Linked DNA regions of Homo sapiens. The protein of the gene in region 3 purifies or fractionates together with the protein of the main gene of each other region. This does not show direct contact. Each region holds a gene or a part of one and is shown on either strand. Other genes may lie near its edges.

Evidence for each region. The genes of interacting proteins can lie anywhere in the genome.
Region 1: the proteins of CROT (region 3) and KLHDC4 purify together in Homo sapiens (affinity purification with mass spectrometry; 3 studies listed by BioGRID and IntAct, with this or other methods). This does not show direct contact.
Region 2: the proteins of CROT (region 3) and EIF2AK4 purify together in Homo sapiens (affinity purification with mass spectrometry; 3 studies listed by BioGRID and IntAct, with this or other methods). This does not show direct contact.

The regions. Positions count from the first base shown.
Region 1 is NC_000016.10:87,755,979-87,763,004, forward strand, and holds part of KLHDC4 (kelch domain-containing protein 4), read right to left. Parts: intron 6,063-7,026; coding exon 5,971-6,062; intron 502-5,970; exon of another isoform or gene 500-501; coding exon 421-499; exon of another isoform or gene 416-420; intron 1-415.
Region 2 is NC_000015.10:39,965,097-39,972,122, reverse strand, and holds part of EIF2AK4 (eIF-2-alpha kinase GCN2), read right to left. Parts: intron 6,438-7,026; coding exon 6,280-6,437; intron 4,780-6,279; coding exon 4,244-4,779; intron 1-4,243. UniProt on the Homo sapiens protein: Metabolic-stress sensing protein kinase that phosphorylates the alpha subunit of eukaryotic translation initiation factor 2 (EIF2S1/eIF-2-alpha) in response to low amino acid availability.
Region 3 is NC_000007.14:87,355,655-87,362,680, reverse strand, and holds part of CROT (peroxisomal carnitine O-octanoyltransferase), read right to left. Parts: intron 5,175-7,026; coding exon of another isoform or gene 5,091-5,174; intron 3,476-5,090; coding exon 3,351-3,475; coding exon of another isoform or gene 3,327-3,350; exon of another isoform or gene 2,627-3,326; intron 1,292-2,626; coding exon 1,110-1,291; intron 954-1,109; coding exon 829-953; intron 1-828. UniProt on the Homo sapiens protein: Beta-oxidation of fatty acids. The highest activity concerns the C6 to C10 chain length substrate. Converts the end product of pristanic acid beta oxidation, 4,8-dimethylnonanoyl-CoA, to its corresponding carnitine ester.

The sequences.
Region 1 (7,026 bases), on a different chromosome or scaffold from region 3:
ACACAATTGTGAAACACAGGTCTTACTGGCCTGCTCAAAAATAAAAATTAGCCCTAAAATTTATCAGCACTTTCCGTGTTTAAGACAACCTGAAAGCTGAGTGTGAAACCTGGAAACCCGCTGGGAGGAAGAACAGCACAGACAACCACAAAGAGGGGTGCGCCCGCCAAGAGTGATGACGGCAGAGCTGGGCCTCAGCCTAAGTCCCAGGAATAGAGACCCCAGGACCACTGAAGTCATCAACAGTCATGCCAGGGCCTGGAGCATCCTGGCGACGTCTCACATCAGGCCTGACGGCTCAAGCGCGTGATACAAGGGGTGAAGGGGCTAACGCATATTTGATGTCACTGCCTTAAGTTAACTTTCTGTCAAATGATACTCACGCAACATGGGAAGAAAAGAAAAAAATATATACTTTACTTTTTGGCCGTTGAAATATTCACCTCCAAAAAGGATTAACTCATCTTTCTCAGGATGAACCGAGAGGGAGGCATTTAACCTACAAGACACACAAGCGGCAGGTCAGCAAGATCACCCCCGATACCCACCTGAGCGCTGTCCCCTTCCTCACAGAATCCTCTGTCACCACAAACTGGCTGCCTCTACACTTCCTGAAAGGAGAGCCTGGCATCGAGAAAGGAAGCAAAGGTGCCACTTGAACACCAACCCCTCTACCAGTGCCCAGGGCCACACTCCAAGGACAACCATGGAGCTGGACTGACACAGTGTCTGGTTGTATTAACAAAAAAAAAAAAAAAAAAAAAATTCCCCAGGCAGGAATAAGTCCAGATGCCCCTACTGATGTATCAAATGTTCCAGAACTGTTTTTTTGATTTGTTTTTTTTCATTTTTGAGATGGAGTTTCCCTCTTGTCACCCAGGCTGGAGTGCAATGGCACAATCTCAGCTCACCACAACCTCCAACTCCTGGGTTCAAGCAATTCTCCTGCCTCAGCCCTCCGAGTGGCTGGGATTGCAGGTGCCCACCACCACACCCAGCTAGTTTTTGTATTTTTTAGTAGAGATGGGGTTTCACTGCATTGGCCAGGCTGGTCTCAAACTCCGGACCTCAAGTGATCTGCCCACCTCGGCCTCCCACAGTGCTGGGATTACAGGTGTGAGCCACCGTGCCTGGACCTCAGAACTGTCCTCTTTTAAGAGCCTATCCTGTCAAATCACCTCAAAACCATTCTAAAAAGTCCAGTAACTAGGCCAGGAGCAGTGGCTCCTGCCTGTAATCCCAGCACTTTGGGAGGCCGAGGCAGGCAGATCACGAGGTGAAGAGATCGAGACCATCCTAGCCAACATGGCGAAACCCCGTCTCAACTAAAAATAGAAAAATTAGCTGGGCATGGTGGTGCGTGCCTATGGTCCCAGCTACTCGGGAGGCTGAGGCAGGAGAACCACTTGAACCTGGGAGTTGGGGGTTGCAGTGAGCTGAGATCATGCCATTGCACTCCAGCCTGGCGACAGAGCAAGATTCCATCTGAAAAAAAAAAAAAAAAGTCCATATGTAAGTACTTCAATATACATGCCAGATATCTTCCATCTAGAAAATACAAACAACTTTCTATTTATTTCACATGAGAACAAAAGAAGAGCTACAAGGAAATTACATAATAATATTATGGGCCAGGCCCGGTGGCTCACACTTGTAATCCCAGCACTTTGGGAGGCTGAGGCGGGCAGATCACCTGAGGTGAGGAGTTCAAGACCAGCCTGGCAAACACGGTGAAACCCCCCGTCTCTACTAAAAATACAAAAAGTAGCCAGGCATGGTGGTGGGCACCTGTAATCCCAGCTACTCAGGAGGCTGAGGCAGGAGGATCACTTGAACCCGGGAGGCAGAGGCTGCAGTGAGCCAGGATTGCATCATTGCACTCCATCCTGGGAGACAGAGCAAGACTGTCTTAAAAAAACAAAAAATAAATAAATAAATACATAGGGCCACTTCAGTTGAAAGTAATGAAAGACACAGTGACTATCTGGCGAATCACTGGGAAAGATCCTCCCTTCAGAGTCCTCTAAGACGGCGTTCCCCAAGGCGTGCTCCATAATGCCAACTCCAAAAGATGTTTCTCAAAGGAAAAACAGGTTTCAAGGTCAAGTGAGTTTGGGAAATCTGAGAACTCTATTTTCTATTGGGGATTTATTTGCATAGAAACATGTCATAGGCTGGGAATTTCTGCAGGAAAGAAACCAGTATTAAAAGCTAAACACAGAATCACCACATAATCCAGCAGTTCGTTCCCAGGCATTAGCTCAAACAGATACCTGTATGCAATGCTCGTTACGGCCTCACAAAAGCCAAACAGTAGAAATAACCTAAGTGTTGGTCTGCAGATGAGTGGACAAACACAATGTGGCATACCCACAGACGGAACAGGATTTAGCCATAAGAAGAAATAAAGTTCTCACACATGCCACAGAACTGATGAACTTGGACATACCAGGTGAAGGAAGTCAGTCACAAAAAGACACTTCTATGACTCCACTTACGCAAAATACCTAGAATAGGCCAATTCACAGTGACAGAAAGTTGACCAGAAGTCACCAGGGGGCTGGGGGAGGGGAAACAGGGAGCAACCATTGAAGGGTCTAGACACTTCTCCCATCTTTTGGCTTCCCTGGGCTACAATGGAAGAAGAATTGTCTCGGGCCACGCATAAAATACACTAACACTAACAATAGCTGATGAGCTTTAAAAAAAAATCTCATCATGTTTTAAGAAAGTTTACAAATACGTGTCACGCTGCATTCGAAGCTGTCCTGGGCCACCAGTTAGACAAGGTTGGTCTAGAGTTTCTATTTGGGGTGATAAAACAATGTTGCAACTGGTTAGTGCTAATGGTTGCACAGCGACATGAAGTAATTCCACTGAACTGCACAGTTTTAATGATTAAAATGGCAAATTTTGGCCAGGCGCATTGGCTCATGCCTGTAATCCCAGCACTTTCGGAGGCCGAGGCGGGCGGATCACCTGAGGTGGGGAGTTCGAGACCAGTCTGGCCAGCATGAGGAAACCCCATCTCTACTAAAAATACAAAATTAGCCAGGCATGGTGGCGCATGCCTGTAATCCCAGCTACTTGGGAGGCTGAGGAAGAATTGCTTGAACCTGGGAGGTGGAGGTTGCGGTGAGCCGATATCATACCATTGCACTCCAGCCTGGGCAACAAGAGCAAAACTCTGTCTCAAAAAAACCAAAACCAAACAAAAATAAAATAAAATGGCAAATTTTGTTAAACATTTTACCACAATAAAAAAAACTTTTTAGGTCGGGTGCAGTGGCTCACACCTGTAATCACAGCATTTTGGGAGGCCAAGGCAGTTGGATCATCTGAGGTCAGGAATTTGAGGCCAGCCTGACTCCAGAGGTTGCAGTGAGCTGAGATCGCGCCATAGCACTCCAGCCTGGGCAACAAAAGCAAAACTCCGTCTCAGAAAAGAAAAAAAGAAAAAAAAAAACTTTTTAAAAATAATAAATAGGCCGGGTACAGTGGCTCACGCCTGTAATCCCAGCACTTTGGGAGGCCGAGGTGGGTGGATCACCTAAGGTCGGGAGTTCAAGACCAGCCTGACCAACACGGAGAAACTCCGTCTCTACTAAAAATACAAAATTAGCCGGGCGTGGTGGTGCATGCCTATTGTCCCAGCTACTCCGGAGGCTGAGGCAGGAGAATCACTTGAACCTAGGAGGCTACAGTGAGCCGAGATCGTGCCATTGCACTCCAGCCTGGGCAACAAGAGCTACACTCCGTCTCAGAAAAAAAAATAAAGAGTGTTTCCCAAATTCCTCTGACCCTGAATCTTTTCTCACTGAATACCTATTGATTTTCTGCAGAAAAGCACCAAACACAACTTCAGAAACGATCTACACGGGGCCCAAACTGAGGTCCCCACCCAGCCACCAGCGGCACCAGCCCAGGTGTTGCCGCCGCACAGGCAGGTGAGGTACTGAGGCAGCTGGTGTCATGCCCCCATTTTCCAGGTAGGTCACATCAGAGCCAATCCTGACGATATGCTCATTTAGAAACTGGTCATTCTCACAAGGTTTTAAAGTAATATGATTAAGAAATAGGAAGTTGGAAGATATTAAGGTTACCAAGCAAAAGATCTTAATCTCAGGATAACTGCTCCCTCCTATTAGGAAGCATTTCCAGCTGACCCAGGGAACTGCCAACACCTTAAATTATATCCTGACATGAAATCTGACTTTCAGGCAACATTACTTATGGAAAAATTCTAAAATATCATTAAAAAAAAAAAAAAAGAAAAAGGCCAGGTACGGTGACTTGAGCCCAGGAACTCGAGACCAGCCTGGACAACATAAAAAAAAGTCTCTACAGGGCCGGGCACGGTGGCTCACGCCTGTAATCCTAGCACTCTGGGAGGCTGAGGCGGGCGGATCACGAGGTCAGAAGATCAAGACCATCCTGGCCAACATGGTGAAACCCCGTCTCTACTAAAAACACAAAAAATTAGCCAGGCTTGGTGGCGGGTGCCTGTAGTCCCAGCTACTTGGCAGGCTGAGGCAGGAGAATGGCGTGAACCCGGGAGGCAGAGCTTGCAGTGAACCAAGATGGCGCCACTGTACTCCAGCCTGGGTGACAGAGTGAGACTCCGTCCCAAAAAAAAAAAAAAAAAAAAGTCTCTACAAAAAAAATAAAACTAATCCCCATTCAAAGTGGCTTTCCTCAGGAGTGCTATATATCAGAAGCCTAAGATCAAGGATTTATTTGCTCCAATAACTCAAATGAAAATGTACATTTACAGCCAGGCACAGCGACTCACGCCTGTAATCCCAGCACTTTGGGAGGCCAAGGCAGGTGGATTACCTAAGGTCAGGAGTTCACGACCAGCCAGGCCAACATGGCAAAACCCCATCTCTACTAAAAATACAAAAATTAGCTGGGTATGGTGGCTGGCGCCTGTAATCCCAGCTACTTGGAAGGCTGAGGCAGGAGAATCACTTGAACCTGGGAGGCAGAGGTTGTAGTGAGCCAAGATCATGCCACTGTACTCCAGCCTGGATGACAGAGTGAGACTCCATCTCAAAAAGAAAAAAAAAAGTACATTTACCACATGTAACTTACATTTGGCCCTGAGGGCAACATGCAAACTAAAGGGAAAAAGAAAACTAAAATCCTAATGGACATGAAGTGAAAACCAGGAAGGACACTGGCCTTTGGGAGTGGCTCCAACACCACTCACTCTGCTCAGGGGCTGATCACCGTGCTCCTCCCACCTCTGGGCAGGTGATGATAACCCTGCCTCTGAGGCCGGTGGGTGGGACTCGGGCACCAGAGCCATCACATGCGCCTCATTAATGCAAACGCAGCACAATCGTGACCCTCCACTCCCGATGGGCTGAACCCCGGCTTCCACTAGGGCCTGCAGCAGCTTTATTAAAAGGGTAAATCCTGCAAGGTTAATCTCCTACTGAGGGAAATAAACCATTTCTCATTCCAGCTCATCCCACACGTGTATGAAATCCTACAGACTCGGAACGTTTTTACGTAATTTTCAAATCCATTTAAAATGGCTTATACTCAATTTATGTTTAACAAACTTTTCACATGAGAATTTGAAAGCATTACAAACACATCAAAAGGCCACAGTGATTTTCAGCTTTCTGCCTACAGTACGCACTTTTAAAATACCTTAAGAACCAAAGAAAAGCTCACTGGGGCAAAACTTTCATCCCCACGTCACGACCAGTGGAGGAGCTTTCAAAGTTGGCACCGGAGCCCAGAGGCAGCAGCTGTGCTGTAGGCCCTGCTCCCAGGTTCCATGACAGTAAAGCTTACAGCCTCATTCCAGTTCTTCAGCAGAAAGTGACCAAGAACAGGTTTTAATAATGAAAATGTCCCAAGTGCCTGGTCATTTACGAAACCTGGTGCTATTTAAAGCAGTTTTTCAATGTATAGAAGAAAAGGAAACATACAATATGAAAAATGCTACTTGCTCACCTTGGTGAGGGTGGGGGGCACGGAAGTTCCACAGTCTGAGTCCTCTTGGCATCGAGTGTCTGGAAATGGGCTATGAGCGCTTCCAGGTCTTCCTAGGGCAAGCAAGCAGGCACACGTGAGACTTATTCCCAGGACCCGCCGCGGAGCCACAGCCCGCTCAGCTTTCCTCCAATCAGTGTGATTCGACTGGGCTCAGTCACATCTGTGAATTGCAACATACTGTGCCTGTTTGAAATGCAGAGTTTGACACATTCGAAAGTAACCAGAGCTTGACCTCAAAGGCAGTCTGCTTAAAGGGTAGATGTGTGCACCAAGTATTATCTCCACACCCTTAACGCTCCCTCTGCAAGACCTTCCACTTAGACAAGCCCGTTGTGACTTCACTGCAGACACTCTCAGCACCTCTCATAACCCAGACTCGAGCCGTCGCACCTGCCAGCCTTCCTGTCTGCAGAGCAGTGTCTGACAAGAACTTCCACTTAGACAAGCCCATCGTGACTTCACTGCAGACACCCTCAGCACCTCTCAGAGCCCAGGCCTGGGCCGTCACGCCTGCCTGCCTTCCTGTCTGCTGAGCAGTGTCTGATATATTTCTCTTGCTTATTTGTTTCCTCCACCCCAACAAAATAATAAAATATGAGCTCCACCAGAGCAAGACTTGTGTCTAGTTAAAACACTGCCTGCACAGCAAGAGCTCAGCAAATACCAGCTGCAGTCTATCCAAGTAAGAAGGTCTCAACTTTTACTACCATCGAGAGTGACTCAAGGTACTGATGTGCCAGCACAGAGGGCAGCACTGGAACCCAGTGTTCCCGCCTCAGTCCCAGTGCCCATTTCCCAACATTTACGAGACACTCCCATGCACACCCGAGCCTGGCATTTCAAGTTCCTTCTAGCCTTCAGTGTCCTGCTTGCAACTACACACACCTGCAGACCATCTTCCCTCCCCCACACCCACCTCTCCAACCTCACCTCCCACCTGGCCTCACTCTCCAAGATACACCAGCGTCCTCTCCGTTCCTTCAATGAAAACGCCAGGTTCCCTCAGCCTGCCAC
Region 2 (7,026 bases), on a different chromosome or scaffold from region 3:
CCTCCCAAAGTGCTGGGATTACAGGCGTGAGCCACCGTGCCCGGCCTCATATACTTTCTTTTAATCTTCATTCCTTGAACCCATTAACTTACTGTTTAATGGTGTAATAGACAATTCTTGTTTTGTTTTTTAATGAAGAAAAACAAGCCATACCTTTAACCCAGGGCTTCTCAAAGTGGGGTCCCTGGCCAGTAGCATCAGTATCCCCTAAAAAATGTTAGAAATACAAATTCTACTATACCCCTGACCTAGTAAATCAGCATCTCTGGAGGTTTGGACAGTGATCTGTGCTTTAACAAGAGCTCCAAATGATTTCAATGCAAGCTAAAGTCTAAGTTAAAGTCTAAGTAGTTAAACTGTAACTGATTTAAGCTGGCCTTTTTTTTTAATTTTAATTTTTTTTTTTGAGATAAGGTTTTGCTCTGTCACCCAAGCTGGAAAGCAGTGTTGCGATCATCACTCATGGCAGCCTCGAACTCCTAGACTCAAAGCATCCTCTTGCCTCAGCCTCCTGAGTAACTGGGACTACAGGCGTGTACCACCATGCTGGAATGTTTTGTTTATTTATTTTCATTTTATTTTATTTTATTATGAGACGAAGTCTTGCTCTCTTGCCCAGGCTGGAGTGCAGTGGCACTATCTTGGCTCACTGCAACCTGCAACCTCTACCTCCCAGGTTCAAGCGATTCTCCTGCTTCAGGCTCTCAAGTAGCTGGGATTACAGGTGAGTGTCACCATGCATGGCTAATTTTTGTCTTTTTAGTAGATATGGGGTTTTGCCATGTTGGCCAGGCTGGTCTTGAACTCCTGACCTCAAGTGATCTGCCTGCCTCAGCCTCCCAAAGTGCTGGGATTACAGGTGTGAGGTATCACGCCCTGCTGTGCTGGAATACTTAAAAAAGTAGAGATGAGGTCTTACTATGTTGCCCAGGCAGGTCTTGAACTCCTGGACTCAAGAGATACTCTCACCTAGGCCTCCTGCAATGCTGGGATTACAGGCATGAACCACCATGCCAAGCTACTTTCATTACAACGGCCCAAGTAGTACGACTTGGTAGCACTTGACCTATAATTAAAACAATATACTTAAAAGAATCAACTGTCGTTGTGAGTTCTGGACTTAAAAATCTATACATACAAAGTGGTGACAGCAACTATCATAAATGGTAACTTTTTTTTATGTTGCAGCAGTAAAAAGCAAGGTACTCCTAATTTCATAGCTTGAACAGGCAAAAAAATTCTAATAAAACCATTTGTATAAGATACCGTATTTTCCTTTAAATTTAAAATTACTTTTTAATTATATCATTAAAACATATATACCTTCTCCTTGCAAATATTAAAACATTACTGATAATGATAAAGCCTTTGACCAACCTCCCCTTCCAATTCTTTCTTCCACTTAGGGTGTCTCATTGTAGAGATTTTTCTATGCATTTATACACATAAACATACAACCATCCAAACAAAATAGTATTGTTTTTTGATTTTTTTAAGCAATATCATCTTATATACATTATTCTTCAGCTTGCTTTTTTCATTCCACCATGTGTCTTGGAGCTCTTTCTAAGCCAGTACTTAAAGATTTTTTTTAAACTTCTGTATAGGCGTGGACCTACCAGAATTTATTTACACATTCTCCTACTGTTGAGATTATTTCCAATTTTTCACATTTTCACAAAATGCTGCAATGAGCATCCCTATATATGCCCTGTTGGGTTTCTGAATTGCGTTATCAACTGTAACTCAACTGTGACATAAATGTTATTGACTTGAAAGTAAATCTGGATCAGAAAAATGTTACAGCCTACCTAGAATGCACAGTATTTTTAAGAGATTTATAGCCACCAAGATCTCACTTTAAAAATGAACTTCTCTGAATCAATAATTTTGGCAACAGGGTAGCCGTATATAGAAAAGGTTCAGCTTTGAACAAAAAGGGATAAAATGCCTGGCAACACCCACATTTCTTCATAGTTCTCACTACTGAGGATGGTGATGAAAACCAGCACTGACTCAGTCTGGGCCAAGTGCCAGGCACTTTATGGCTGTTAACTAATTTAATCCTCACAACCACCTCATGAGGTAGGCAGTGCTATTATCCCAGTTTCACAGAGGAGGAAACGCAGGGCAGGGGGTTAATTCACTCAGCCAGTAGGACATAGAGGTGAGACCTGAACCCAGATGTTTTGACTCCAGAGTCTTACCCATCACAGAGGCTGATTTGAAACAAAATCTTGCTCCAAAGGGTGTTCACTAATATGTAAAAATATAACTACAAATGGAAGGTTGCTGTTTTCATTCTTTGTGAATGGCATTTTTCTTTTGTTAACCAGGGCTGGACAGCAAAGTTCATAAAAACAGTTCTTGGCAGCTCCTTAACCAAGCACAGTCTATCAAACCACTCCAGGGAGAGAAGTATACAAAATAGTCTAAAGAAAAATCTTGTTAAAAGAATAAGAAGGCCATGCGCTATGGCTCACGCCTGTAATCCCAGCACTTTGGGAGGCCGAGGTGGGCGGATCACGAGGTCAGGAGATTGAGACCATCCTGGCTAACATGGTGAAACCCTGTCTCTACTAAAAATACAAAACATTAGCCGGGTGTAGTAGCGGGCGCCTGTAGACCCAGCTACTCAGGAGGCTGAGGCAGGAGAATGGCGTGAACCTGGGAGGCGGAGCTTGCAGGAAGCTGAGATCGTACCACTGCACTCCAGCCTGGGCGACACAGCCAGACTCCATCTCAAAAAAAAAAAAAAAAAAAAAAGAATAAGAAATTGTGCTGATCTCAAGTTTAAAACTGACAGAGCATACAGCTATTTAAGAAGAGAACTAGGAAAGTTTTACCTACCGAGCCCATTCATTTTGCTACTAAACGGGAAAGGAAAGGTACTTCTACTTAAACCTCCCAGTACTGTTTTTAACAACACATGATGCTATTGCTAACCTTGACTAAATTACTCTTCATCAATGAAGAAGGCAGAACACTAAAGGTGACATTTTGAAGATGGAAATGAAACTTTCCATCTGTGATTCTATCATCATATTTGTCATTTTGGCCAACCTCATTGTTAGGGTGCATTTAAATAAATATGTTTAAAGCTCCATTGCATTAAAAAGATACCATAAAAGATTTCTTTAGAAATCTTAATATTTTCATATACTTCAAGGCGAGAAACCAACATAAAGAATCAAACTTGGCCCCTTTCCACAACTGTATGTATGTGTGTGTATATATATATATATATATCATATTCACTTTACACAAAAACAATCTCAAACACAGGTGCAGCTACTTTCACATCTGTAATGGTAAGACCATCAGTGACAGAGCATAACAATGTAAACCAGGCCAACTGGCTACTGCGATAGGTGGAATAGGGAAAGAAATGTGAAGGGTAAAAGAAATGTTGCAAATGGAAGAAGTGAATAAAAGCAAATGATTGGGAAAAAGAAGGTAAAAAACAAAGAGTGTCAGAAAGGGAAGAAACCAGCCCAGGTCAACTCCTGCAGGATAGCTGGACCAGAGGAGCATCTGGAAAAATCCAGACTGAAGGGATCTTATCTCCCATTTAACAGAAACTGACAGAACTTAGCTCTGGCTTGGACTGAAAACAGAGGCAGGACGAAATTAGAAAACACTTAAGTGAAGGACCTGGACAAACATCTTAGGCCTGAGGAAACATCTCAAGAAGGGTTCTCCCAAATTGGATAAAACTTGGCTTTGTAATTAAACATGCACCTGTGATTTACAGGTATTGAAACTCCTCTGGCTAGACTAAGGAAGTTATTTGCATTCTACAACTTAAATGAATGAGACAGCCAATGAAGAATGGTTAAGAAGCACAAGGGGCAGAATCTCACTCCCAAAGCTGTTTTTGAATAAGGAGCCTCGTCTTTGACCCTTTAGGAACCAGAGCAAAGGTCAGTATTTGGAATACCTAGGGCATTTCTCACCATAACCATCTCTATTGACTTCCAAGAGTATCCCATCAGTCCCCCAAAAGGAGTTTGAAAATCAAGTGTGAATTCCAAGTGAATTTCAGAGAATGTGGTAGTTAAGAGAATCACCAACCTACATGAGAAAACAGAACATATGAGACTAGGACAGGATTGGGAGAGCAAAGAATGAAGTCCTGTTCCTCACTTCTCAGCTTCCACATCACTTAGATGTCTGGCACACTCCAGCACAATCAAAAGTACAGGAGTAAAGTGCTATTAGAGAGAATCTCAGTGATACTCACTTCTTTAGAAAATCTTGAAAGTCAGCTGGTAAGTCACTAGGGATGGTCACAGGGTACTCTCCACATTCCTGTCCTTGGCTGAGGGACAGCAGCAGAAGGCCAAGACGCCAAACATCTCCTTTCTTCCCCGTTTTATAAGGCAGAGCATTGTCACTAAAACGAACTCGGGTTTGCTCAAACACATCCTCCTTGCAAATGTCTGCGAGGCGCTTAGAAATGCTATAGTCCGTAATCTTGACGGTGCCTTCTGCATCCACCAAGACATTAGATGCACTCAGGACCTTATGCACCACAGAATTGCTGTGCAGATAATCAAGGCCTGACAGGAGCTGAGCTGTGTACCTGCGAAGCTGATGCACAGGGATGGGGCCTGAGTGGCTCAGGTGTGCAGCAAGAGAGACCCCACTAATGTGCTCCACTAAAATGTCCACCACGATGGAGTCGTCTTGCTCTTTGAGATTCATTGCAAGGTAGCGTACTACATTTGGATGGCTCAATTTTACCAGTGAGTTGAATTCTGTTTCTGTTCCTTGAATCTGATAAGTTAAAAAAAAAAAAAAAGAATATTGGGCCAGTCAACATTAACTTGGGTTTCATTTCAAAAGTGAAGTATTTGATCATACAAGATGGGGGCATAAAAAAACAAAACCAAAACCAAAAGTGAAGTATTTGATAGAAAATATACTTTCAAATGAGAGGAGAACAAATATGCCCTAAACTGAATCCTCCCCAAACCATATGGTCAATCTAATAGTTCATAAAGATGGAAAAAATTTAGCTAATTCTCAACTTCTCTAATCTCAAAACCTACTATGCATATACTACAAAATTAGTGAACAGTTTTTAAAATAAAATTCTTTTGAGGTATAGCCACTAGAAAAAACAAACTTTAATTTAAAAATAACCTTTTCTGATTAGCTTTGTATTTGGGTTTTTAAAAATATAGTATATGATTTGAGCAGCAGAATAATGGCCACATCCTAATCCTCAGAACCTCACATGGCAAAGAGGAGTTAAGGTTGAAGACAGAAAAAAAAAATCTTTTCTGATTTAATAAAGATCATTGTCAACATTTAAAAAATTAGTTTGATAGAAAATACCCACATGTTATCTATGTGGTCACCACCCAGTGATAACTCAAGATTTTGGCACATTTACTTTCAGTTTTCTTTCTATACTTAAATACACACACATTTCTGAACACCATGCTTTATCTACGTTTTTGTAAACCTTGTTATTATGTAACACTGCAATATGCAATACTGAATGTTCTCCTTATGCTTGGTTATAAATCATAATTTATAAATTAACTTAAAAATCCTCCGGTCCCCCAAAATTCAGTTTTGAAGCAGTATTTTTCTTTTCTTTTTTTTTTTTTGGAGACAGGGTCTTGCTCTATCACCCAGGTTGCAGTTCAGTGGCATGAACACAGCTCACTGCAGCCTCAACCTCCTGGGCTCAAGCAATTATCCCACCTCAGCCTCCCGGGCTCAAGCAATTATCCCACCTCAGCCTCCCAAGCAGCTGGGACCACAAGTATGTGCCACCATGCCCACAGATTTTTAAATTTTTTGTAGAGACAGGGTTTCACCATGTTGCCCAGACTGGTCTCAACCTCCTGGGCTCAAGTAGTCCTCCTACCTTGGCCTCCCAAAGTGCTGGGATTACAGGTATGAGTCACTACACCCAGCCCTGAAGCAATATTTCAAGAGTAGGGAAAAGAAGAATTGCAAAAAAACCCAATTATGAACTAGTATTTAGTCCCAGTTGGAAAGATGACTGTTAATGCCATACTAAGGGCTAAGAAAGGAGGTTAAGAAGGCAGCTGGAAGTGCTTTGATCATGTTGTGAAAGTTCTGAAACCAGAGGCAAGGGGCAAAGAGGTACTGGTCCTTCACTGTCCTCCCTGGTCAAACAGTTCTCATACTGCTCTGGACCATCTCTGCAGGGCAAACAAATGCAGGGCTATTTTGTTCTGTCATCTCCTAAAGCCTGAGATTAGGCCTTTTGCTCAGTCAGCCACCTTGGATGCTTACCTGCTTTTTGCACTTATCAATCTTCTCTTTTTCTTGACTGGTAAGGAATGGACCCATTTTTTTCTGCCACTGAAGGACCCACTCATACAACAAGACAAAGCCACCAGTGGCTGTTTCCAAAGCATTGTAGACTAATTTTCCAAGTTGTTCATCACTGCCTGCACATTAAACAGAAAGTGTAATTAAATCCCACTGGTATGTTTTCTCTTGGGGGAAGGAAGGGAGGGGGTAATACACATTCTTTAGTTCAACAATGGATACCATGCGCTAACTATGGAAAATAGGACTTTATGTAATAATGTCCTTTTGTAAACAATTTTTGATATTTAGCAATATACCTGAGTCCTAAAATAATTTTTTATAAGGGGCAAGAATCTACAATGAGATCTTAGTATCAGGCAAATAAAGAGACCAATGTTTGGCCAGGCGTGGTGGCTCACGCCTGTAATCCCAGCATTTTGGAAGGCCAAGGCAGATGGATCACCTGAGGTCAGGAGTTCGAGACCAGCCTGGACAACATGGTGAAACCCCGTCGCTACTAAAAATACAAAAAAATTAGCCAGGTTTGGTGGCGGGCACTTGGAGTCTCAGCTACTTGGGAGGCTGAGGCAGGAGAATCGCTTGAACCTGGGAGGCGGAGGTTGCAGTGAGCCTACAACGCACCATTGCACTCCAGCCTGGGCGACAAGAGCAAGACTCTGTCTCAAAAAACAAAAGAGGCCAGTGTTTTATGCTACTAGCCATTAT
Region 3 (7,026 bases):
CAGAAACTGCCATTAAACTGCCAGTTTAAAAAAAAAAATTGATGAGTCAATCTGAACTCATGTGTCTCTAAGAAGAGTGACTCCAAGCCGGGCATGGTGGCCCATGCCTGTAATCTCAGCACTTCTGGAGGCTGAGGCGGACAGACTGCTTGAGCCCAGGAGTTTGAGACTAGCCTGGGCATCATGGTGAAACTCCATCTCTACAAAAAATACACAATTAGCCAGGTATGGCAGTGCCTGCCTATAGTCCCAGCCACTCAGGAGGCTGAGGCAGGAAGACCACTTGTGCCCAGGAGGTGGAGGTTGCAGTGAGCTGAGGTCGCAACCTGGGCAACAGAGTGAGACCCTGTCTCAAACAAAAAAAAAAAAAAAAAAAGGAAGAGTGACTCCAGGCTTTTACCTCATATAAGGTGGAGGGACAAGCAGACTCACAGGGAGACTGTGGCATGATAAGCACATATAAGTAAACACTCAAAAAGACAATTCAGGTAATAAAAAATGAGGGTAGAAAGAGAAGCATCCAGATCATATGTTTCATGTTTCAGGATTTTCTTAATACTCTGATTCTACTCTTCAAGTAAACTTTAAACTTTCAAATGATGAAATATAAGCATCAGGTTTGTGTTGAACCATGTAAGATACATTTAGAAAATCCGTTCCCATAAATTACATCTAATCAGAATGATTCAAATATAAGGCTCACAGAAAACCTTTCTTTGTCAAAGTCCCAACAGTAATATTCTTCAAAAGTGTATGTTCCATCACGTCATAGTAGGCTACCCAAATTCCAGTGCCTTTACTAAAAACGATATCTGCATTTTTACTTACCAGTCCTAAAATAATTCATAATGGAGTCTCTAGTAATTCCTGGAACCTTGCAGGTAGAAAATAGCATTCGGAATTGATTCATATCTAGAGGAGTATTTCCAACTTTATGAACAGGCACTTTTTCTCTATTAAAAAAAGGATTTTGATCAAAAAGTCATTATAAAATTTAAAAACCAGCCACAACTGAAGTGTTCATCCCCAAATAAGTAAATTAAGCTTCTCAACATTTTGCTACCTGAGACTTCAGGTAAGCCTGTCACTAAATTCACATGTGTCCTTACTTTCTTAATAGCTGCCAGTAGTTCAAGTTATGCCAAAGAGTTATACTTCCTCTTTCTAATTGAGTCCCTTCCTTTGGAGGCCAGTAGTGTTCAAAATGAGCTGCAGGACCCGCAAAGTTGACATTCAATTGTGATGGTATACGAACATCCAGATAGGCAACATTCAGCCACCACTCTTCCAGCTAAAAGAAATTGAGAACATCAGCTTAATGTTCTTCATAATACATGAATGTGTAACTACTGGGAATTTTAAAAAGCAAGCTATATTTGTTCTTTAATTATTCTTCAACATTTAAAAACATGTTTTTTGGCTGGGTGAGGTGACTCACACCTATAATCCCAGCACTTTGGGAGGCCAAGGTGGGAGGATCACTTGAGTCCAGGACCTAGAGGCCAGCCTGGGCAACATAGAAAGACCCTGTCTCTACAAAAAAAAAAAAAATTAATTAGCTGGGCCTGCATGTAGTCTTAGCTACTCAAGAGGCTGAGGCAGGAGGACCACCTGAGCCCAGGAGTTCAAGGCTGCAGTGAGCTATGATTGCACCACTGCACTCCAGCCTTGGTGACAGAGAAAGACCCTGTCTCAAAAATAAATAAATAAAAACATGTTTTCTTGTTTTAAATCATCATAGATATTGAGAAATGTTATTGTGATAATTTCTTTTCAGCGGGGAGCTATAGGATCTTAGGTATTATTTGTTTTAACTACACTATCAAAAACGAGTATCAAGAAAGCACCAAAAGATACCTTCAGAAATATCATTGTATTGTAGTCACAAGTATGCAATAAAGTACATAGGTGTTTCTTCAGAGTACTTGGGGCATAATAGATAATCAATAAATCCTTACCTAATAATAACAGTTATTAAGGCATTAACAATTTTCCTTTTCCAAACAAAAACTGCAATACTAAATCAGAAATATAAAAACTGGCTGGGCATAGTGGCTCACACCTGTAATCCCAGCACTTTGGGAGGCGGAGGCAGGCAGATCACTTGAGGCCAGGAATTTGAGACCAGCCTGGCCAACATGGCAAAACCCTATCTCTACAAAAAATACAAAAATCAGTTGGGTGTGGTGGTGCGCACCTGCAATTCCAGGTGCATGGGAGACTGAGGCATGAGAATAGCTTGAACCCAGGAGGCAGAGGTTGCAGTGAGCCGAGACTGCACCACTGCACTTAAGCCTGGGCAACAGAGCAAGACTCTGTCTCCAAAAAATAAATAAATAAAACAAATAAATAAAAGTTTTCAGTAGGCTTCAAAGTAATTTAGATTTTTCACAGACACTGTTTTCTATGTGTCCCTCTTTCACAATATGCAATTGAATTCCATGCATAAGTAAGCACATCTTATCAAATTACCTGGAGTCTTGTTTGAAGAAAGTGATGTTATAAACTATAATTAGTAATTCAGAAAGAGACATAAACAAAAAAGATACAGATAAAACAACAACTTCTTTACCTTTACCCCTCTTTAATTAAAACAACTCAAGGCTCAAAATTGAGAACAAAGGAATCCGGAAGTGTGAAATTTTATTATTCCATCACAGATATAAATGGTTCATCAAAAAAAATCAGCTTGCTTTTTATTTCTAAAACTAAATGATAGGTACAATAATTATTTCTAGACTAAGGCAATGCTTTTGAATTATACAACCTCATCCTCTGATTCATAGTAGAGAAGTACAGAAATGGTTGAGCTGAAGAAGTTAAAGAATTTTGTGGAAAATTATTGAGACCTTCAATAATTATTATACTAGCTTCCTCAATTTATCTAACTGAAATATACAATATACATAACCATTCTCCACTCTGATTTTTAATGATTCCCTTTCTCCATTGTACTACGAAAATATTTCTATGCCACCTATGTGACATGTCTATTTTAGTGTTTCTGATTTTTCAAGCTAGTCACCTGGACAAAATGTTTTCCTTCAGCATGGTCTACAGATTACCTGCAGCCAAACCACATGAAGTGATTGTTAAAATAAGAATCTCTGGGCCTCATTCCAGCCATGTGAATCAGAATCACTTATCCCAGCAAATCTGCATTTTAACAAGTTCCCGAATCCACCCACTGAAAACTCCCAAAGTTAAGTGATTCATTCCTTCTTTTGGATTATGAAAATAACAATAATAACTGTAAAAATTTTTACAGCAATAATTTAAAAATAAAAACTATGCACTTTTTATTTATCATTCTTTAAACATCATCATTATTCAATTATAACAACAAATACCCAATTTCTTTTTCCTTTTGCTCTTTCAAGCAATTTCTGGTGCAATTTTTCTCCAATCCCACTTTGAAATTTTTGAACTATTTCTTCAGTTTTCTTATATTCTTCTTGATTTGCAAATGGTTTCACTAGAAAGGAAAAATACGTATTAAGGTATTTAGACCAAGTACCACCAACTCACCTCTATTATTACTAACTTATGCAAATCTTAAGACTCAGATATGTAAAACACAGTACTGTATTAAATAGCAGAGCAGAACAATAAAATTAAGAGTTGACAACATGAAAGTGGCGGAAAAGAAACAAAAGATTTGGAAATCCTTGCTTGAGAGAATGGGATTAGCAAGTCGGGAGGGAGCCAGGGAGATGGGCAAAGGACTGCATTTTTCATCACAAGCCTATTTACACTATCTGGCTTTTCAAACTCTGGAAAAATTAACATAAAGAGAGAAAAAAAGTTGGATATTTTAAGGACATGGTTGACTCGAACAACACGAGTTTGAACTGCACAGGTCCATTTATACCTAATAAAAGTTGATAATGAGTGTGCTTGCCTCTCCTGTCCCTACTTCCACCTCCTCTACCACCTCTGAGACAGCAAGACCAGTCCCTCCTCTTCCTCCACCTACTCAACATGAAAACCATCAGGATGAAGATTTTTATGATGATCTACTTCCACTTAATGGATAATAAATATATTTTTCTCTTCCTTATCATTTTTTAATAACATTTGCTTTACTCTAACTTAAATAATTCAGAAAATAATACATATAACATAAAATTATCTGTTAATCAACTGTTTACGTTATAAAGTTGTACTTGAATTTCTTTTCTTTTTTTTTTTTTTTTTTTGAGATGGAGTCTCGCTCTGTCGCCCAGGCTGGAGTGCAGTGGCGTAATCTCAGCTCACTGCAAGCTCCGCCTCCTGGGTTCACACCATTCTCCTGCCTCAGCCTCCCGAGTAGCTGGGAATACAGGCGCCCGCCACCACTCCTGGCTCTTTTTTTTTTTTGTATTTTTAGTAGAGACGGGGTTTCACTGTGTTAGCCAGGATGGTCTCGATCTCCTGACCTCGTGATCTACCTGCCTCCGCCTCCCAAAGTGCTAGGATTACAGGCGTGAGGCACTGCGCACGGCCTGTACTTGGATTTTCTAATACACATGGGTCAGCACCACCAGCCCTGCATTGTTCAAGAGTCACCTATACTTTATTACAAGTCTAGATAAAGAAGCAATTAAACCTTCAACTTCTAACAGTGTTGTTAAGGAAGCAGGAGCTTAGGAGAGCCAGAGTAATGCCGTTTTAATTTCAGCTCCATCTGGAGACTAACAAGGCACAATTCCTTGCTGGTCATGACCCACATTAAGAAGATATTTACAGTTGAGTGAACAGCCTACAGATACCTACAAGGACACACTCCTAAACAGCAGAAAGTCCAGGTATCCCAATACCCATAACAATATATGTTTTCAAGATAATTACAGTTATGTTTGGATGTATTTACACACTAAAATGTCAAGGATAGTTTTATTTAAATCAATAGAATAATAAATTGTGTCATGTTGTCTGCTCACCCACATGTAGACGTAGCTTAGTTTAGTCTTTACATAGATAAAGGCTCTATATAAGAAAAACTTAAAATAAGGATGGTGCCTTCCTTTGCTTGCCCTCTGAGGACGCTCTACTCCGCAATGGAGTAGCTTTCAATAAGCTGTCTCTTCTCACTGCACTCTGCAACTCACCTTGAATTCCTTCCCGCGTGAGATCCAAGAACCCTCTCTTAGCATCTGGATCAAGACCCCTTATCTGGTAGCATGTTCTGGTGACTACAAAGGGACATTAGGATGAGATCCCATGCTGAGGAGATTCAGCCTGCACAGCACTAATTGGCCACCTCTGATAAATGGGGTCTGTCTTGGCATCCTATCAAGGATAATATTTCTAGCCCAATGGGGTTAGAGTCTCTAGGGTATAATATTTGGGTTAGAGTCCCAGCCCAATGGGGTGAGAGTCCCTGGGGTATAATAAAAATTAAAGTAGCCTTGCAAGATGTACGCCAGTATATGCTTTGGACTAATCCACTTTGTCCCCTTTGCCAGATATGGGAAAGCTATACTTCTCATCACTTCCCAACTTGTTGCCTTTGCTTTACTGCAGCTTTACAGTGGCCCCTATGGCCAGCCCAGAGGTTTACTGCATTCACTTTCCACACTTGCCTTCTGACTGTCACCTTTTCGTTTGCTTTGTCATGTCTCAGGATAGCATGGGGAACCTGAGGACTTACAAGATTTGTTCTTGATATATATATTTTGAGACAGAGTCTCGCTCTATCACCCAGGCTGGAGTGCAATGGTGCAATCTTGGCTCACAGCAACCTCCGCCTCCCAGGTTCAGGCGATTCTCCTGCCTCAGCCTCCCAAGTAGCTAGAATTACAGGTGCCCACCACCACGCCCAGCTAATTTTTGTATTTTTAGTAGAGACAAGGTTTCACCATCTTGGCCAAGCTGGTCTTGAATCCTGACCTCAGGTGATCTGCCCACTTTGGCCTCCCAAAGTACTGGGATTACAGACGTGAGCCACTGTGCCCAGCCTGTTCTTGCTATATCTTAAACATTGCAGGACTCAGATGCTTTTACACCCCATGTTAAAACAGGCAGCAATCTTTATCTGCTTGCCCCCTGTGGAAACCTGGAGTCTCATTCTCTTATCTGAAGCTTCAGCCTGTTATCATTCTGGTGGTTACTTTTGCCCTGCAACTATGAAATTAAACAGAGTCTTCTAAAGCTCTCTATTTTTCTCTTCTTTTCTGCCTGATTTGAATCTGTTATTATTAGTCTACTAGTATTGAAATAAAACTTGATGTTTAGGTTACTTAGAGATTTTGTTTTTCTTGTACAGTTCAACCAGAACTGTAAAAGAAATGTACATGTTAGAAACTCATTTGAAACTGAAAAACAAAATGTGAAAAGGCAAAACAAACAAACAAAAACAAAAATAAAAAACCCTCAAACTTTCATGAAGACTACTTTACCCAAAATTTTGGTCTATGGCTTTCCTGGCATGACTCACTGGATATCTGAGTCATTTCCAATTAAGAAATGTTTATAATATGGGAAACATGTTTCTAAAATGTTGGCAGCCTGGGCAACATGGTGAAACCCCATCTCTACAAAAGATACAAAAATTAGCAGGGCATGGTGGCACCTGCCTGCAGTCTCAGCTACTCAGGAGGCTGAGGTTGGAGGATCACCTGAGCTGGGGAGGTCAAGGCTGCAGTGACCTGTGACTACACCACTGCACTCCAGCCTGGGTAACAGTGAGATCTCATCTCAGAAAAATAAAATAAAATAAAATTGTGGAATGATTTTATCTATAAAATGCTAACATCTGACAAATAGTTCTAGGTTTCTTGCTTCCTAAGTTTTTGGATTCATGTATAGGTGAGTGCTCTTTGTTGTCTCTTCCATTCCCTTTGTTGTCCCTTTTCCTTTCTGCAATATACTTTGCAATATACTCAGCCTTCTAGGCCCCAGGAGACACAGGAATACTCATATTCCCCAGGTTGAGGTTAGAGGCCCCACCCAGAGTTGGATAACCTATTTGAGTCTCAGAGTTGTATTTGTCAGTACCTACTGTTTCTTAATCGGCTGTTATTTGCTGTCTGTGTCTCGCTAGTG